2 separate regions of the Homo sapiens genome follow, and region 2 is linked to region 1. Evidence: fine-mapped expression QTL. Tissue or cell type: esophagus mucosa. Region 1 holds a variant in brackets; the other region holds the start of a gene. All regions are shown on one strand. Distances are between the middles of the regions.

The links. PIP is the estimated chance that this variant, and not a neighbour inherited with it, causes the effect.
Region 2: KCNK13 starts here. The variant in region 1 is fine-mapped to the expression of KCNK13 in esophagus mucosa (GTEx, PIP 0.92).

Annotation. Positions count from the first base shown.
Region 1 is chr14:90,100,908-90,109,104 of GRCh38, reverse strand. All of the region lies in intron 1 of KCNK13 (potassium two pore domain channel subfamily K member 13), which reads right to left. It also overlaps the pseudogene GLRXP2. Among named protein-coding and RNA genes, the nearest start is that of KCNK13, 43 kb to the right of the region's middle. The variant G/A (reference allele first, on the strand shown) is at 3,811.
Region 2 is chr14:90,057,229-90,065,404 of GRCh38, reverse strand. It overlaps KCNK13 (potassium two pore domain channel subfamily K member 13), which reads right to left and starts at 3,411. Exons shown (of 2, transcript NM_022054.4): 1 at 2,866-3,411. The coding sequence starts at 3,199. LOC124903406 reads right to left here. Exons shown (of 3, transcript XM_047432048.1): 2 at 4,494-5,003; 3 at 3,672-4,043. The coding sequence ends at 3,779. RefSeq lists enhancers at 3,469-3,968, 3,969-4,470 and a silencer at 4,719-5,108.

The DNA.
Region 1 (8,197 bases):
CCCGGGTTCACGCCATGCTCCTGCCTCAGCCTCCCGAGTAGCTGGGACTACAGGCGCCTGCCACCATGCCCGGCTAATATTTTTGTATTTTTAGTAGAGACGGGGTTTCACCGTGTTAGCCAGGATGGTCTCGATCTCCTGACCTCGTGATCTGCCTGCCTCGGCCTCCCAAAGTGCTGGGATTACAGGCGTCAGCCACTGCGCCTGGCCCAAGGGATTCTTAGTTTTCAAAGCATTGGGGGCTCTTTCAGAGATACACTCTTAGGGTAGGGGGCTGTAAGTTTTCTCAATGTTTTACATTTTGTGCTTTAATTTTTGCTGGTACTCTAAATCAAATAAATACACAGTGTTCAGGATTATCTGGATGGCCATCTTAAATAACAGAGTGTTCTACACGACCACAGCCTCTGCACTTGTGCCTCTGATCCATATGACAGCAAGACCAACTATGCTTAACTTTTCATATGATTTCTCCAGTTGAGTCCTGAGAGCTTTCACAGAATTGTTGAACATTTCCTATGAGATCTGTGAGAGGACAAGGTGGACAACACTGGTTCAGAGCAGTGATTCTCAAGGTGGGATGGGATGGGGTGGGGTTGTGTCTCCGGAGAGATGCAGTCGTTTGAAAGAACACATTCAAAATACCCACTGATTTCATAACACCAACTCCACAAAGTCAAGAGGAAAAATGATTTCAGCTAATGGGCAGTAGCAGAAAACCAACCAAGGATTCATCATTGTGGAGAAGGAGTCTGTAGAAACATAGTTGAAAAACACTGGCTTAGAGGCAGAGGCATGCCGACACGTGGAGAACAGTAAGAAACGCGTGCCAAAGAGAAAGAACAATTGAGGGTGAGTGAGCGAATCCTAGGCCAGAACTTGTCACAATCTTCTGAAAACCAAAGAGCACATCAAGAAGAAAACCAAGATGGCCCATCAACCTTCTTGGCCCCGTGGTCAAGAGCAAGTTGATCCACTTTTAAATACTGAGGCAAAAGAAGAAAAAAGCTGTTTGTGCCCCCCAAATTCATCCACCAGGAAGTGCTGTCATCACATGCAATGCCATCCAGCTCTTGAGGAGGAAAGTCAGCGTGTGGCCTGCTCTGTGGTTACTGCAAAACTCCAATCTGCTTTAGCCGCGTCAGCAGTTCCCCACTCTATTGCATAGTGACTAGATCACTGCATCTGCCTATACAATCTTTACTGATAAAGACTCAAGGCCCCATTCTTGCTCCCGTGAGCTGTTCCAAATAATCTTGAATCTTGTTAGTGTGGTTGGTGGTTGTGATCTCGACAAATTCCAGAAGCCCTTGTTTGATGGGCAGTTGACTGAGGATCTCTTGGGTCCTCCTGCAGAATGGGAAGGTGGGCTTGATGAACACAACCACCTTCCCAGGCTGGATTTTGTAGTTCCCACACTCTTGAGCCATGCTGACAGGCTGCGGTCCCCCTGGGAAGAATCCTCAGTTGTAGGTATTGCATGAGTATTGAGCCAAACCTAATTCTTGTTTTACAAATAAACACACTCTTTACTTTTGCACAATCGTAATGTTTACTGAAATTTCCAGGCAGGCAACTGCCCTATAAGTTGAGGGAAGGCTCAACATGTATATATATATATTTTTTTGAGACGGAGTCTCACACTGTCGCCCAGGCCGAAGGGCAGTGGTGCCATCTCGGCTCACCGTAAGTTCTGCCTCCCAGGTTCACGCCATTCTCCTGCCTCAGCCTCCCAAGTAGCTGGGACTACAGGCGCCCGCCACCACGCCTGGCTAATTTTTTCTATTTTAGTAGAGATGGGGTTTCACCATGTTAGCCAGGATGGTCTCAATCTCCTGACCTCGTGATCTGCCCACCTTGGCCTCCCGAAGTGCTGGGATTACAGGCATGAGCCACCATGCCCGGCCAACATGTACTTTAAGAGTAACCAAATGTGCACCATCTCAGGCAATCTCATCATGGACAGTAAAGCGGTGGTGTGTGGTACAGAGCACCTGTGTCAGCCTACCCGCAGGTACAAACACCCGAGCGCTTCATTATAGTCAGACTCTAGCATTTATATATTTATGTACTTTCTTTTTTTTGAGATGGAGTCTCAGTCTGTCTCCCAGGCTGGGGTGCAGTGGTGCGATCTCAGCTCACTGCAACCTCTGCCTCCCGGATTCAAGCGATTCTCCTGCCTCAGCCTCCTGGAGTAGCTTGGACTAGGCGTGCACCACTACTCCCAGCTAATTTTTGTATTTTTAGTAGAGACGGGGTTTCGCCATGTTGGCCAGGCTGGTCTGGAACTCCTGGCCTCAAACAATCCATGCACCTTGGCCTCCCAAAGTGCTGGGATTACAGGTATGAGCCACTGCACCCAGCCTATATTATTTTACTATAAATGTTTTCTGTTGTTTATTCTTTTATAATTAGGGCAGTATAATGTCTTTCTAAAATATATGTATAGTTTATTTTATCTATAAAATTTCATTTCAGGATAATAAATATTTATAAAATTTCATGATAGTATCATAAATTTTTTTTTTTGAAGACATAGTCTCACTCTGTCACCCAGGGTGGAATGCAGTGGCGAGATCTCAGCTCACTGCAAGCTCTGCTTCCTGAGTTCAAATGATTCTCATGCCTCAGCCTCCTGAGTAGCTGGAATTACAGGCATGAGCCACCATGCCTGGCTAATTTTTGTATTTTTAGTAGAGACAGGGTTTCACCATGTTGGCCAGGCTGGTCTCGAACTCCTGACCTCAGGTGATCCACCTGCCTCAGCCTCCCAAAGTGCTGGTATTACACGTGTGAGCCACTGCGCCCAGGACCTTTCTTATTTTGCATATTAGTATGTGATGTGCAAAACATTTCAGATGGTAGAGTATGTCAAAATGAGATCTCTTCAGAAGTTCTGTGTTTACTGTGAGGCCTTATGGCACCGAGCTCCTAAATTATTTTTGACATAAAAAGGGAGTTAGCAGGTATTATAGGAGTTGAGCAGAACTATTCTGATTGAATCACCTCATTTTTCAAAGGCCTTGAAACCCAGGGAGATGGAATGCCCAAGGTCACAGGGATAACTAGTTTCAGAAGAACCAGACAGCCATGAATTCAGACCCAACCAGGACTTGGCCTCCTGCCACCAGCACTGCCGGCTCAGCCTGCCCAAGTCTCTGGAGGGCTCCTTGTCTCCACAGAAAACCTCCTTCTATGCCCCTGCTTTTGCCAAGGCCTGGACAATGATTTGGAACATCATGCCGTCTTACTAGGAAGCACAAAACCTTTGTCGGACTGTTATTATTATTTTTAACCTAGGACCTTTTCTTTCGTATGCAGAAATTACAGCTATAAAATAAACAGATCCCTTGTGCCTGGCTCTCTTTGGACACAAATTGCTGCCTGTCCTTGTCTGTTTAGAGTTGGATTCAAGGGCCTTCAAGAAAAATGGCCAAAAGGAAAAAAAAAAACAACTTCCTTGATTTGGGGAGACAATGGATTTTGTAGTTAAAGACTCAAAGCTTGGGACTCTAACCCATGAGTACCCTAGTACCCTCAACGACCACAATCCAGGGCCACAGGGTTGGTGGTACTTAGTTTCCATACACAGAATGTCCCCATCAACTGTATAAAAACTTGGGTTGCTCCAACGTTGGTTGTTCTGTCACTTGATTTATCCTGTATATTAAAGTCAAGGGACCCCTTTTTCCTCTAACATCTGTGATTTCAGGCGAGGACTCTAGAGGGAATAAATGAGGTGAGGACTACTTCACCAAGGGGGTGAGAGAAGATCTCATGTCTTCAGGTGCGGCTGAAGATGGGGACCCA[G/A]TTTTATAAAAAGCTGAGAGAAAAAAGGGCTGAGAGAAGAAAAGGGCCTAAAGCAGAAACAAGCTTGGACAATCAGGAGACAGGAGACCAGCGTGAATGAGAGACACGGTGCTGCTGAATGCCTTGGATGGATGGATGGACCCAACCTCACCCTATTTATGTAACCCATTTACCTAACGTAGCAAAATGGAGTTGGAAAGTAGCTGATCCTGGCTGGTGGCTCATGCCTGTAATCCTAGCACTTTGGGAGGTTGAGGCGTGAAGATCACTGGAGGTCAGGAGTTTGAGACCAGCCTGGCCAACATGGTGAAACCCCATCTCTACTGAAAAACAAAAAATTAGCCAGGCATGGTGGTGCATGCCTGTAATCCCAGCTACTCGGGATGCTGAGGCAGGAGGATTGCTTGAACCTGGGAGGTAGAGGTTGCAGTGAGCCAAGATCGTGCCACTGCACTCCAGCCTGGGTGACAGTGTGAGACTCTCTCAAAAAAAAAAAAAAAAAAGAAAAGAAAAGAAAGTAGCTGATCCCCAAGTTCAAGACAGTGACACCTCATATGGAAAGGGACCCCCGAGACTCTTCCACCTTCCTTGCCCAACCTGGGTAGGATGGCGTCTCCCTTGGGCTTAATCTGACCATCCCAGGAGGATATGTGGCCCAGGAAAGAAACAGAATGCACATCACCTTTGTGAGACAATTCTGGCAGGATTCATCAAGTGATCACACAAAGCCTTCAAAGACATAAAAAAGATACTATTATCAAGCAAATCCCAAGAGTCCCCAAAGATAGGAATGTATGTGTGACAGGGACAAGGTGTCTTATTGCCTTCTGGGTGCTGCTGTGCCAAGAGAGAAAATGGTCTCCAGACAATGTGTTCTCAGTGAGGTTTCCAGAAACTCATCAAAGAATGGCCTATATGATCATAGATTTCAAAGATGTTACTGTTTTAGGAGGGGAAAAGGGGTCTGGAGAGAAGGCCCAGAAACCACGCAGTTCCTGACACCCAACAAGAATGCAGGGAGGGGCCAAAAGGCATTCACAGGAGGAGGAGGCACTCAGGGACATGCCAGGCTTTTATTCCAAGGTGTCCTTGAGGAAGAACAAGATTAGGAGGCTCGGCTGAGAAGAGAAAAATTCATGTCAAAGGAAAATTGAGTAGAGGAGCGAGATGAGTGAGTTTTCAGAAAAGGGTAAGATCAGGAGAGAAAAAGAGACAAGAGAAGTTGACTCCTGCCCAACAGGAATGTGAAGAGGAAAGACAGGGTCTTCAGGAAGCCTAGAGACTGATCTTATACATCTGGGTATGGCCCATGTCTCACTGAGCTGCTGAGAATGGAAGCTGAAAGGGCAAAGTCTTTAGAGGTAGGAGATACACTTAGAGATCTCTCTGGTCCAGGAGAGAGAGAGAAACAACAACAACAAAAAACTGTCTGGGCCTGGTGCAGTGACTCACGCCTGTAATCCCAGCACTTTGGGAGGCCAAGGCAGGCAGATCACCTAAGGTCCCGGGTTTGAGACCAGCCTGGTTAACATGGTGAAACCCCGTCTCTACTAAAAATACAAAAATTAGCCGGGGAAGGTAGTGGGAGCCTATAATCCCAGCTACTCGGGAGGCTGAGGCAGGAGAATCGCTTGAACTCGGGAGGTGGAGGTTGCAGTGAGCTAAGATCACGCCATTGCATTACAGCTGACAAGAGCGAAACTCCGTCCCCCAAGAAAAGAAAACCTGTCTGTCTCCCTGGGGTGGACAGGATGCCCTAGTTTTATGTGTGTTTGAATCTCCAAAAATACCTGCATTATTTTTCATGGGAAAAGGTCCTAGATAAAATAACTCAGATTGCCCTTAAAATCCCACAGATGCTGGCGAGGCTGCAGAGAAACGGGAACACTTGTACACTATTGGTGGGAATGTAAGTAATTTTGGCCACTGTGGAAAGCAGTTTGGAGATTTCTCAAAGAACTTAGAGTTACCGTTTGATCCAGAAATCCTATTCCTAGGTATATATCAAAGGAAAACAGATCATTTTTCAAAAGAGATAAATGCACTGGTATGTTCCTCACCTTGCTAGTCACAATAACAAAGACATAGAATCAACCTAGGTGCCCATCAACAGTGGATTGGATTAAGACAATGTGGTATTATACATATACAACATGGAATATTATGCAGCCTTAAAAAAGGACAAAATTATGTCCTTTGCAGCAATGTGGATGGAGCTGGCAGTCATAATCCTAAGTGTATAACACAGGAACAGAAAGCCAAATACTGCATGTTCTCACTTATAAGTGGGAGCTAAACATTGAGCGTCCACAGACATAAACATGGGAATAACAGATACTGCAGACTACTAGAGCAGGGATGGAGGGAGGCATGGGTTGAAAAACTACCTACTGGGTATAATGCTTATTACCTGAGTACAATACACCCATGTAACAAACCTGCACATGTACCTCCTGTATCTAAAATAAAAGTTGGAGGAAAAAAATCCCAGAATGTTAACAGAACTAAAATTCCCCCAAATCTAATGTCTAATATCTCAGATGAAAGCTTGGCAACTCAACTGGAAGACAGCAACCCACAGGGAGACAGAAAGTCAGTGTTAACATCTGAGACAGCACAGCCATACTGACTGAGAAGCTCTGCGGAAAAGCACTTCCCAAAGGCTATGAGGAATAATGGGAGGAATTTCATAGGGGGTCATGGGAGAGACTCTACTCTCCGTGTCATTGACTCCCAATAACCAGGAAGGCAACAGGAGAGAAGACAACATCCTGAAGGTGGCTGCATAGGGTAGGGATTGAGATGATGGGTGCTAGAGTCCAATCATCTGGGATCAAATCCTGCCTTTGCCACCCAGCATTGCAGCACAGGCAAGATTCTTACTTGATTCTTCTAAGCTTCAATTTTACATCAATTAATGAAGATACTATAGTTGATGGGAGAGTTATGAACTGAATCTGCAGCCAGTGAGCTTTCTGTATGCTGGCTGGTGTTGTTACCAGCTCTACATCACAGCTGTACATTCTGCCTTAAAGGGAATTCCTGGAGCCCGTATAGATCTGAAGGAGTCCATTTCAATGGGGGGATTTCTTTTTAAAAATTTTTTATTTCTGGCTGGGCACGTTGGCTCATGCCCATAATCCCAGCACTTTGGGAGGCCAAGGTAGGTGGATCACCTGAGGTCGGGAGCTCGAGACCAGCCTGGCCAACATGGAGAAATCCCATCTCTACTAAAAATATAAAATTAGCCGGGTGTGGTAGCACATGCCTGTAATCCCAGCTACTTGGGAGGCTGAGGCAGGAGAATCGCTTGAACCTGGGAGGCAGAGGTTGCAGTGAGCCAAGTTCGCGCCATTGCACTCCAACCTGGGCAACGAGAGCAAAACTCCGTTTAAAAAAAAAAGAAAATATTTCCATAGGTTTTCGGGGGAACAGGTGGTATTTGGTTACATGAGGAAGTTCTTTAGCGGTGACTTGTGAGGTTTTTTTTTTTTTTTTTTTTTTGGAGACGGAGTCTCACTCTGTTGCCCAGGCTGGAGTGCAGTGGTACGATCTTAGCTCATTGCAACCTCCACCTCCTGGGTTCAAGCAGTTCTCCTGCCTCAGCCTCCCGAGTAGCTGGGATTACAGGAGCACGCCACCACACCTAGCTAATTTTTTTGTATTTTAGTAGAGATGGGGTTTCACCATGTTGCGCAGGGTGGTTTCAAACTCCTGAGCTCAGGCAATCCATCTGCCTGGGCCTACCAAAGTGCTGGGATTATACCACCACACCCGGCCAACTGGTGAGATTTTGGTGCACCCATCACCAGAGCAGCATACCCTGAACCCAATTTGTAGTCTTGTATCCCTCTCCTGCGTTGCACCCCATGGGAGAATTTCTGAATGTGATGCCCCTGCCCCCTCGTCTAAGTATTGGTTTTGCCATACGAGGACAACACTCTGGTCCGGGACAAGATATGAGTGGAGACGTGCTGGGACTTCAGATCAAGATTTCAGAGAAATCAAATCTCCTGCCCATTTGGTGCCAGAAGCGATTTCAGAGAGAGACTGAACAACAAGGGCAACAGTGAGTATTTTGTGCTCACTGTGAAGCAGACATGGTTCCAAACACCCTGCCTACGTCACCTGGTCTACTCCTCAGAACAACTCTGAGGTGTGATTATTATCAGCCCATGTTACAGACTGAGAAACTGAACAGGGGATTGAAGTACCTCGAATGACATAATTCCATCATATACTGCAACCTCCTTAGTTGCAAAGCACGTGGAAGCATCTGCTTGACTCAAATATCTCGTGCTGGCCAGGCACGGTGGCTCACACCTGTAACTCCAGCACTTTGGGAGGCTGAGGTGGGAGGATTGCTTGAGCCCTAGAGTTCAAGACC
Region 2 (8,176 bases), 44 kb after region 1:
GGGAACCCAAACTAAGACAAAGTTCCTCTCTAGCAACTTCGTAGCTCCACTTGCATCCCGTATTTCTGTTCTTCTTTTCCCTGGTTCTGAAGTTTTATTTGTATTTTATGATTATTTTCCTGTATACTTTGTCTGCTACCTCAAAGTCTTTGCAGAATAAAGCATGGTGGAATTAATTTTTAGAGGAAAAACACCATCATGTAATGTTACAATAAAAATGCAAGATATGAGTGGTTTATAGAATATAATTCTAATTTTTAAAAATGCATATGTATATAAGTATACGCAGAGGAAAAAGGAGACCAGAAGAAAATGGACCAAAACATGAACAGTGGTTAATTTGGATGATATTACTGCATATAACTTGATTTTTTTCTTCTTTATACTTTATTTTACAAAAAACCTGAACCTTCAGCTTTTTCATCTATAACGGGGGAGTGTTATGCCTACCTCATGGAGTTGTGTTGGCTGAAATGAAGTGTGAATGTCACACAGCAATGAGCTGCATTGCACATTCACATAATAATCATACAGTATGTGCCTAATACGGGCCTGATAAAGGTTAGCCAGTGCTGTTATTACAACAATTAGTGAAACAATTTAAAAGGAAATGTTACAAATGAGAAATAAAAATCAGCCCACACTGACATCATGTTTTTTACCTTTTAACACGCACGCACTTACAAGAGCTCATTGTCCCTCACAAGAACCCTGTGACAGGGGCAGGCTTACGCAGACGGAGGGAGCAGGGGGCAGGACTAATATTCACCAAATAGCTGATGTGCCAGATACCAAGGTGGGCACTCTGTAGATGCCTCAGATGAGAAAAGGATGGGGCTCGGAATAGTTAAGAGGCTTGCCCAAGATACAGAGGCAGGATGAAAAGCTCCCACTCCAGACTCTTTGTCCAGGTTTCTTTCCACTCCTCCATGCCACATTGTCATATTCGTATCCCCAAAGCCCATGTTCCTATATGGCCACCTACCCATGCCACTCTCAGTTCCTGCTACATGGATGCACCTGTCCACACACACACTCTGCTCCTTCCTGCCTCTGTGCCCACTGGGAGCACCAAGAGATGGTTTTTCATGGTGGTGGGAAAGATTCAGCCATCAAATCTCCCATCAAAACCACCCTAAGTTACCATTCAATCTAAAAAAATCCTGTACTTGCTATGCAAACACAGTAGAGTCAAGGTCACTTCCAAAGTGACACCTCCTAATCAGTTTGTTCATCCCAAGTCTTGCCTATGTGGAGATTCTGGAACTGTCTTCTGGGACGTGGGAGGTGATGTGAGGAGGGGCTTGTGGAACACGGCTAAGAGTCCAGCAGATAGTGTGGGCTCAGGGGGAGAACCATGGGGGTGTTATTCCTCCTTCACCAATCTTGGGCCCATTCTGGTCTGCTGCAAGGTTTCCTGCCTGATACCCAGTTATGGTGGTGCCATCATGGCCTGCTGATGGGCCGCACCATCTGGGATGGGATGGGGGCTGGGAGCCAGGCACTTCAGATACAGCCGGTGTGTCCCTAATCATACTGGTCCTCTGCCTCGCCTCCTGTGCATCAGCTGAAGCCCTGGATTCCTGGACTAGCCCTGGGAAGTCTTTCATGATGAATCTGACCTGAAGCCAATCTCTTTTGTCTTTTGTGCTGCTTCTCCTGGCAGAATGTCTATGTAGCACAGCCATGTGTGGGAGCCTCAAGGAGGCTCAACTTGTCGCCCCACCTCACCAGCGAGCTCTTCTAGAGTGCACAGGGGCAGTAGCTACAGAGCGCTCAGCACATGCACCCTGGGCTGTTTGCAACTGCCAGCCTTTTTTGCAGCTTGGAGGCCACTTCCTCTCCGTCTAACTCTTCCAACCTCCCTCCCCTGCTCCAGGTCTCTTTTTGCCCCCCTCAGAATTTATTTCTACAGCATCTTCCCTAACCCCCATTAATCACTTGATTATTCTTCAAGGATGAACAATCTTTAGGGGTGTGGCGCAGACTCCCCCAAATCATTTTCCTTCTGCTGGGAAATAAACACAGCTGATTGTAGCTGTGCTACATCTTTGCTAAAAAATTCTCAATGGCTCCCAGGTGCCTCTAGGTAAATTCCAGCTCCTCAGTCTGTCAGTGAAGGTCCTACCCCCGCCTCCATCCCATTAGCCAGCAGACCTTCCTAGTCTTCCTTCCACCACTCCAACCAGCTCATGGGGCCCCTGAGTGCGATTCTCTCCTACTCTAGAGTGCAACCGCGCTTTCAGTTCCCAAACCCAAGTTATGCCTAACACGAATTGATTCAGCCCAAAGGTCACTTCCCTGGTTCTTCCTGGTGGAAAATTTTCCATCTTTTGAACCGTCATTGGCACTTTTGCTTCCTCACTTTCAGTCTGCTGTTCTGATTTTTTCTCGGTAAGTGTGAAGTCGAGGGCAGAATCTTTTAAAATCTGCACTTCCCCTCTGACTGACTCAGTAAATGTTTAGTTTCCTGTCCCTATCTGTAAAAGCCTTCTTCCCCATGAACTCAAGCCGTGTCTCCTTCATTAGACTGAAAATCTCCCAGAGCAGAGCGTCTCCAATTTAAGGATCATTCCAATCCTTTGGGGACTTTGTTAACATGCAGATTCTGACTCGGCAGGTCTGCAGAGGGGACTGAGACTGCATTTCTAACAAGCTGCCAGGTGACGCTGAAGCTGCCGGTGCCTGGACCACATTAGAGCAGCGGGGAGGCAATACCACCTGTTGATCAGGCGACAGCTCATGTCAGTGGAGTCTGGCTGGGCGCCCAGATGGATGAATGAAAGGATGAGAGGGTCGGTCCTGCCCCCCGGAGGAAGTGGAGGCCGCCCGGAGGTTGTCAGCGAGTCCGGCCAGCACACTTACCTATGGTGGAAACGACGGTGCCCACGAAGTAGAAGGCGCCGGTGAAGTCCCAGCGCGGGCGGACGTTGTCCACGCGGATGCCGGCCCGAGTGGCCTCCTCGTAGTGGCGGAGGAAGCCGCGCAGCTCGTCGCGGCTCAGGTTGTGGCCGCGGCTGAAGTTGGCCAGGCGCTCCTCCCAGCGCTGCTTGGCCTGGCGCTCGTGCGCCAGCTCCAGCGCGGAGAAGACGGCGGCGCCGCCCAGCAGGTAGAGCACGATGAGCGCGGCCAGCAGCAGAAAGCGCGCGTTGTCCTCGTTCAGGTGGCCCGGGCCCCAGCTGAAACCCCGGCCAGCCATGGCCGGGCCCCCGGGGGCAGCCCCCAGGCCCACGGCACCGGGCGTCGGCGGAGTCTCGCCCACACCCCCGGGAAATAAGGGCCCCGGCGCTCAGCCAGCTCCCGGGCGCCCCACCGCCGGCTCGCCCATGACCGCCGGGCTCTCCCGCAGGCCGCGAGGCTCCCCCGGCCGCCGCCTCGGTAGCTCCTGTGGCGCCAGCTCCCCACGTCCTCCTTGACTCCTAGTTTCAAATCCGCTTTGTCGCCGCCGTTCCCCTCCACTCCCCCTGCTCTCCTCGGAGTTCTCCTTAACGCTGAAGGTCCCGGGGAACGGGCGCAGAGTTCACGTCTGCTTGGCGCTGGGATGCGGGCGCAGTTTCCACCCCGGCTCCCTGTCCGGCTCAGATAGGGGAGGGGGCGTGGCGCGTCTTCAGGGCAAGCTCGAGCCAACTCGAGTTTCCCGCAAAGAGACGGTCGCGGGGCGGGGCGGGGCGGGGCGGGGCGGCGGGGGGGGGGCGCGGTCCGGAGGTCTGCGGGTAAGCAGAGCGCCGGGGTCCTGGGTCCTGGTTCCTTTGACTATCGCTTCGCAGGCCGCCGACGGCTAGGACACGGGTGTCAGTCTGCTGGCTTTGTAGGTGCCTCCCCAGGTAGATCGACGATGGTGCCTCCTAGTTGTGGTCGTGGTGTCGCGCTGAGCCTGTGGCCTCCCGAGTCTCCGAATCGGCTGCCGGGGCTTAGGGATGGAGGGGGTCCAGGGCGGGCGCACGGAGAGAGGGGCTGTGCTGAGCGGCGTCCGAGGGCTGCGGCGTCCGAGGGCTCCGACCTCCGGCCGGGCCCCAACGCTGCGCATCCGTTGGGCGGACGGGCTGGAGAGAGGAGACCAGAAAGGGAGGTTGGAACAGGGAGCAAAGGAAGTTAGGGGCTTCTCCCCCGGGCAGCCTCCCTCGCCTTGACCATGCCAGAGCGCCCTTGGTCTCTGGATCCTGCGCGGGGGCGTCCTCTGCGCCTACTAGTAGGCTCCGCCCGGACCAAGCGCGCACCGCGAGCCAGCCCCGCTTCCGGAGAGGAGGCCAAACACTGGGGGCTGGAAGGGCTCCGCGGCCAGGAGACCTTGACCTTGGAGCGTTCCATCTCTTCCCCCCGGGCTTGGCTGCCTAGTGCGTTCCAGAGTTTTGCCTGGACGCGGGGTCCGCGCAGAAGGCATCCCCCACCTCATGCAGAACAGTAGCAAGGCTCTCCAGCAAACCGCCGGGGCCCCCTCCCCGAGACCCCGCCTTGTAGCGGGCGCTGGCGCCGCTGCCGCGCTCAGATCTCACCTTCCGGGGAGCGCCCTCTCCGCGCCGCTCCGTCGGGACTGTTCCCGGGCCTCCTGGCAGCCGCGGCCCTGCCCTGCCAGCCGGCGCGCGGAGCACAGGTCCGCACCGCGCTCTGCCTTCTCAGGCGGGCGCGCTCCGACGCTGCAACAGGTAGAGCCGTGCGGCTGCCAGCTGCGGCGACTCCACCCTGTCGCCCGCCTCCTTGCGCGCGGGCCCGCCTCCTGCGCTGGTCTCCGCGGGTAGACGCTCGGCGTTCGAAGGGCCGACCCGGGGCTGCGGTGCTCCCACCAGGGCGCGCAGATCTGGGTAGTGGATGCAGAACCGGCTGGTGGGACGCTCAGCCGGTCCGCGTGGGCCCTCCGGGGCCGGGAGAGGGCGCTCTGCCCCCTCCAGACACATCCCGCCCCCGCCCGCGCACACAGCCCCGCGCGGCCCTCCGGAATCACCCGCCCGGGCGTGTGGGAGCGAATCTGTACGCGGAGAGGAATGGATACGTGGGCATCTTCCCACCTTCCGAGAGAGCGGTTTCAGGCGCAGAGCCCCACACACCGCCCTTACGCACCAGGAGCAGAGACAGAAGGGCTAGGAGCCCTGTTGAGTAAAACCGTGTGATTTCGAATAAAGAAACACAGCTCTGGCGAGTGCATTTTCATCAGAAACCCTGGTGCTGTTAGCAGTCCTCTCGGCTCTGTTACTCACTCCCCAATGCCCCTCTTTCATCTAGCCTTCTGAGGGGCAAGAGCTTTAGGGGCATCGCGAGAATGGGTGCATGTGTATACACCCAGGGTGAGTACTGCAATTACCTTTTAAATCCATTTTATTATGAAAAATTTCAAACATTCTAAAAAGTTGAATTTTACAGTGAACACCCGTATACCCACCACCTAGATTCTACAATTAACATGTTACTATACTTGATTTATTAGATATCTACCCGTCCCTCTGTCCATCCATCAACCCATCTTGTTTGGATGCATTTCAGAGTAAGTTGCAGAGCTTGGTACACTTCCGCCCTCATCCCCAGTACTTCTGCCTGCATATCACTACGTAGGGTTCAATATTTACTTGCAGAATTTTTTTCCTTTTCGGATAAAATTTACATACAATGAAATGCACAAATCTTAAGTGTATCATTAGGTGAGTTCTGACAAATGGGTACACCTCTGCAAATCACCTATCCAACCTACCAGCCAAACATCACCAACAGGGTCCCCCTAAGTCCCTTCCCTGTAACTCCCTACCCACATTCCTCCAGAGAAAACCACTGTTCAGAATTTTTCTACCATCGATTACTTTCGCTTTTATAGAACTGTTTTTTTGTTCTAAATCTCCATATAAATGGAATCATGCCGGTATGTACTCTTTGGTGGAAAACATTATGTTTTTGAGATTTACCCATGTTATATGTCTTAGTAATTCCTTCCTCTTTATTGCTAGTTTTTCATTGTTTGGGTATACCATAGTTTGTTTATTCATTCTCCTCCTATTGATAGAAAGGAGAACTGTTAGAAAATTTTGGTCATCATAAATAAAACTGTTAGGAACATTCTTGTACAACTATGTAGACATATGTTTTCATATCTCTTACGTAAAGACCTAGGAGCGGAATTGCTGGGTCATAGGGTAGGTATGTATTTTGCTTTATGAGAAACTGCCCGACATTTTCCCAAAGCAGCTGTACTGACAGTGTACACTAGTTCTGGATGCTCCGTATCTTTGTCAACATTTGGCAGTATCAGTCATTTTAATTTTAAAACTACTGGTGGATGTAGCAATATCTCACTGTGGTTTTAATTTGCATTTCCCTGATGTCTAAAAATACTGGTGGATGTAGCGATATCTCACTGTGGTTTTAATTTGCATTTCCCTGATGTCTAATGCGCTTGCTGGCCACTTGTGTACCTTCTCTTGTGAATTTTCTGTTGAAATATTTTGCCCACTTAAAAAATTAGTTTCTCTGTTACTGAATTATAGAGATCCTTTATATATGCAGGATACGAGTACTTTCTCAGATACATATCTTGCAAATATTTTCTAACTCTGATTTGCCTATTTATTTTCTTAAATATGTTTTCTGTATGTTTGGTGCCCTTTGAGAAATCATTACCTCCTTCAAGGTTGCATAGGTTTTCTGTCTCCCCACACTTTTATATTTGGGTCTACGATCCATTTAAGTTTGTTTCCTTATGGTATGAGGTAAGAGTCAAAGGTCATTTTGTCCAGGTGGATTTCCAGTTATTCCAATGCTATTTGTTGAAAAGATAAATATGCCTGAGTTTCAGGAATTTAATTTGTTCATTATTTGCCCACCCTTATGCTAATACCACAGGATTTACATACTTATAGCTCTATAGTAGGTCTTTAGTGGGACTATAATTGAGTCCTCTAACTTTGTTCTTCTTTTTCAAGATTCTTTGGATGTTATAAAACTTTTACACTTCCACTAAAAAATCATAGAATCAGCTTAATTTCCTCCAAAAAGCTGTGGGATCTTGATTTCTGGGATTGTGTTGGATCTATTTTGGGAAGAACATCTTGACAATTCATGAAAGAGGTATATTCCTCTATTTATTTAGGGTTTCTTAACCAAGTTTTCATATGGAGATTTTGCACATCTCTTGTAAATTCATTCTAAAGTATTTTATATTCTTTTGATGTTATTGTAAATGGAATTTCAAAATTTTACTTTTCAATTGTTTGCTGTAGTCCATAAAAATACACGATTGTTGCAAAAATACTTGAATTCTTCAACCTTGCTACTTTAGTCATCAGTTGTACATGTTTTGTTGATTCCTTTAGGAGTTTCTTTGTAAATAATCATGTCATCTACAAGTTTTGCTTTTTTCTTCCTGATCTTTATCATCTTTTCCCCCTCTTGTCTGCAACGGCTAGAGCCTCAGTACATTATTCAATAGAAGTGGAAGCAGATATCCTTGTCTTATGATCTTAGGAGAAAACTTTCCTTTTATCATCATTTATATAATGTTAGCTGTGGGGTTTTCATAGAAACTATCGGATTAAGGAAGTTTCCTTTTATTGTTGTTTCTAGTTTTCTGGTGTTTTTGGTTTTTTGTTTTTTTTTTTTTTTTTTTTTTTTGAGACGGAGTCTCGCTCTGTCGCCCAGGCCGGAGTGCAGTGGCGCGATCTCGGCTCACCGCAAGCTCCGCCTCCCGGGTTCACGCCATTCTCCTGCCTCAGCCTCCCAAGTAGCTGGGACTACAGGCGCCCGCCACCATGCCCAGCTAATTTTTTGTTTTTTAGTAGAGACGGGGTTTCACCGTGTCAGCCAGGATGGTCTCGATCTCCTGACCTCGTGGTCCACCCGCCTCGGCGTCCCAAAGTGCTGGGATTACAGGCGTGAGCCACCGCGCCTGGCCGAGTTTTTTGTTTTTAATGAAGCATGAATGAGTACTGAATTTTGTTAAATGCCATATCTGCATCTATGGTGATGATCATATAGTTTTCTCCTTTATTCTGCTAATATGTTGTATTTCACTGATTGCCTTTCTAATGTTAAGCCAATCTTGCATTTCTGGGATATGTTGCACTTGGGGTTTCCACTCTATTCTTTTTATTCCTCTACTTCTGAGTTTACTCTTCTTTTTCTAGCTTCTTATGGTGGATGTTTAGATCACCGATTTTAGACCTTTCTTCTTTGCTAATGTTAGTGTTGCTGGACTTTT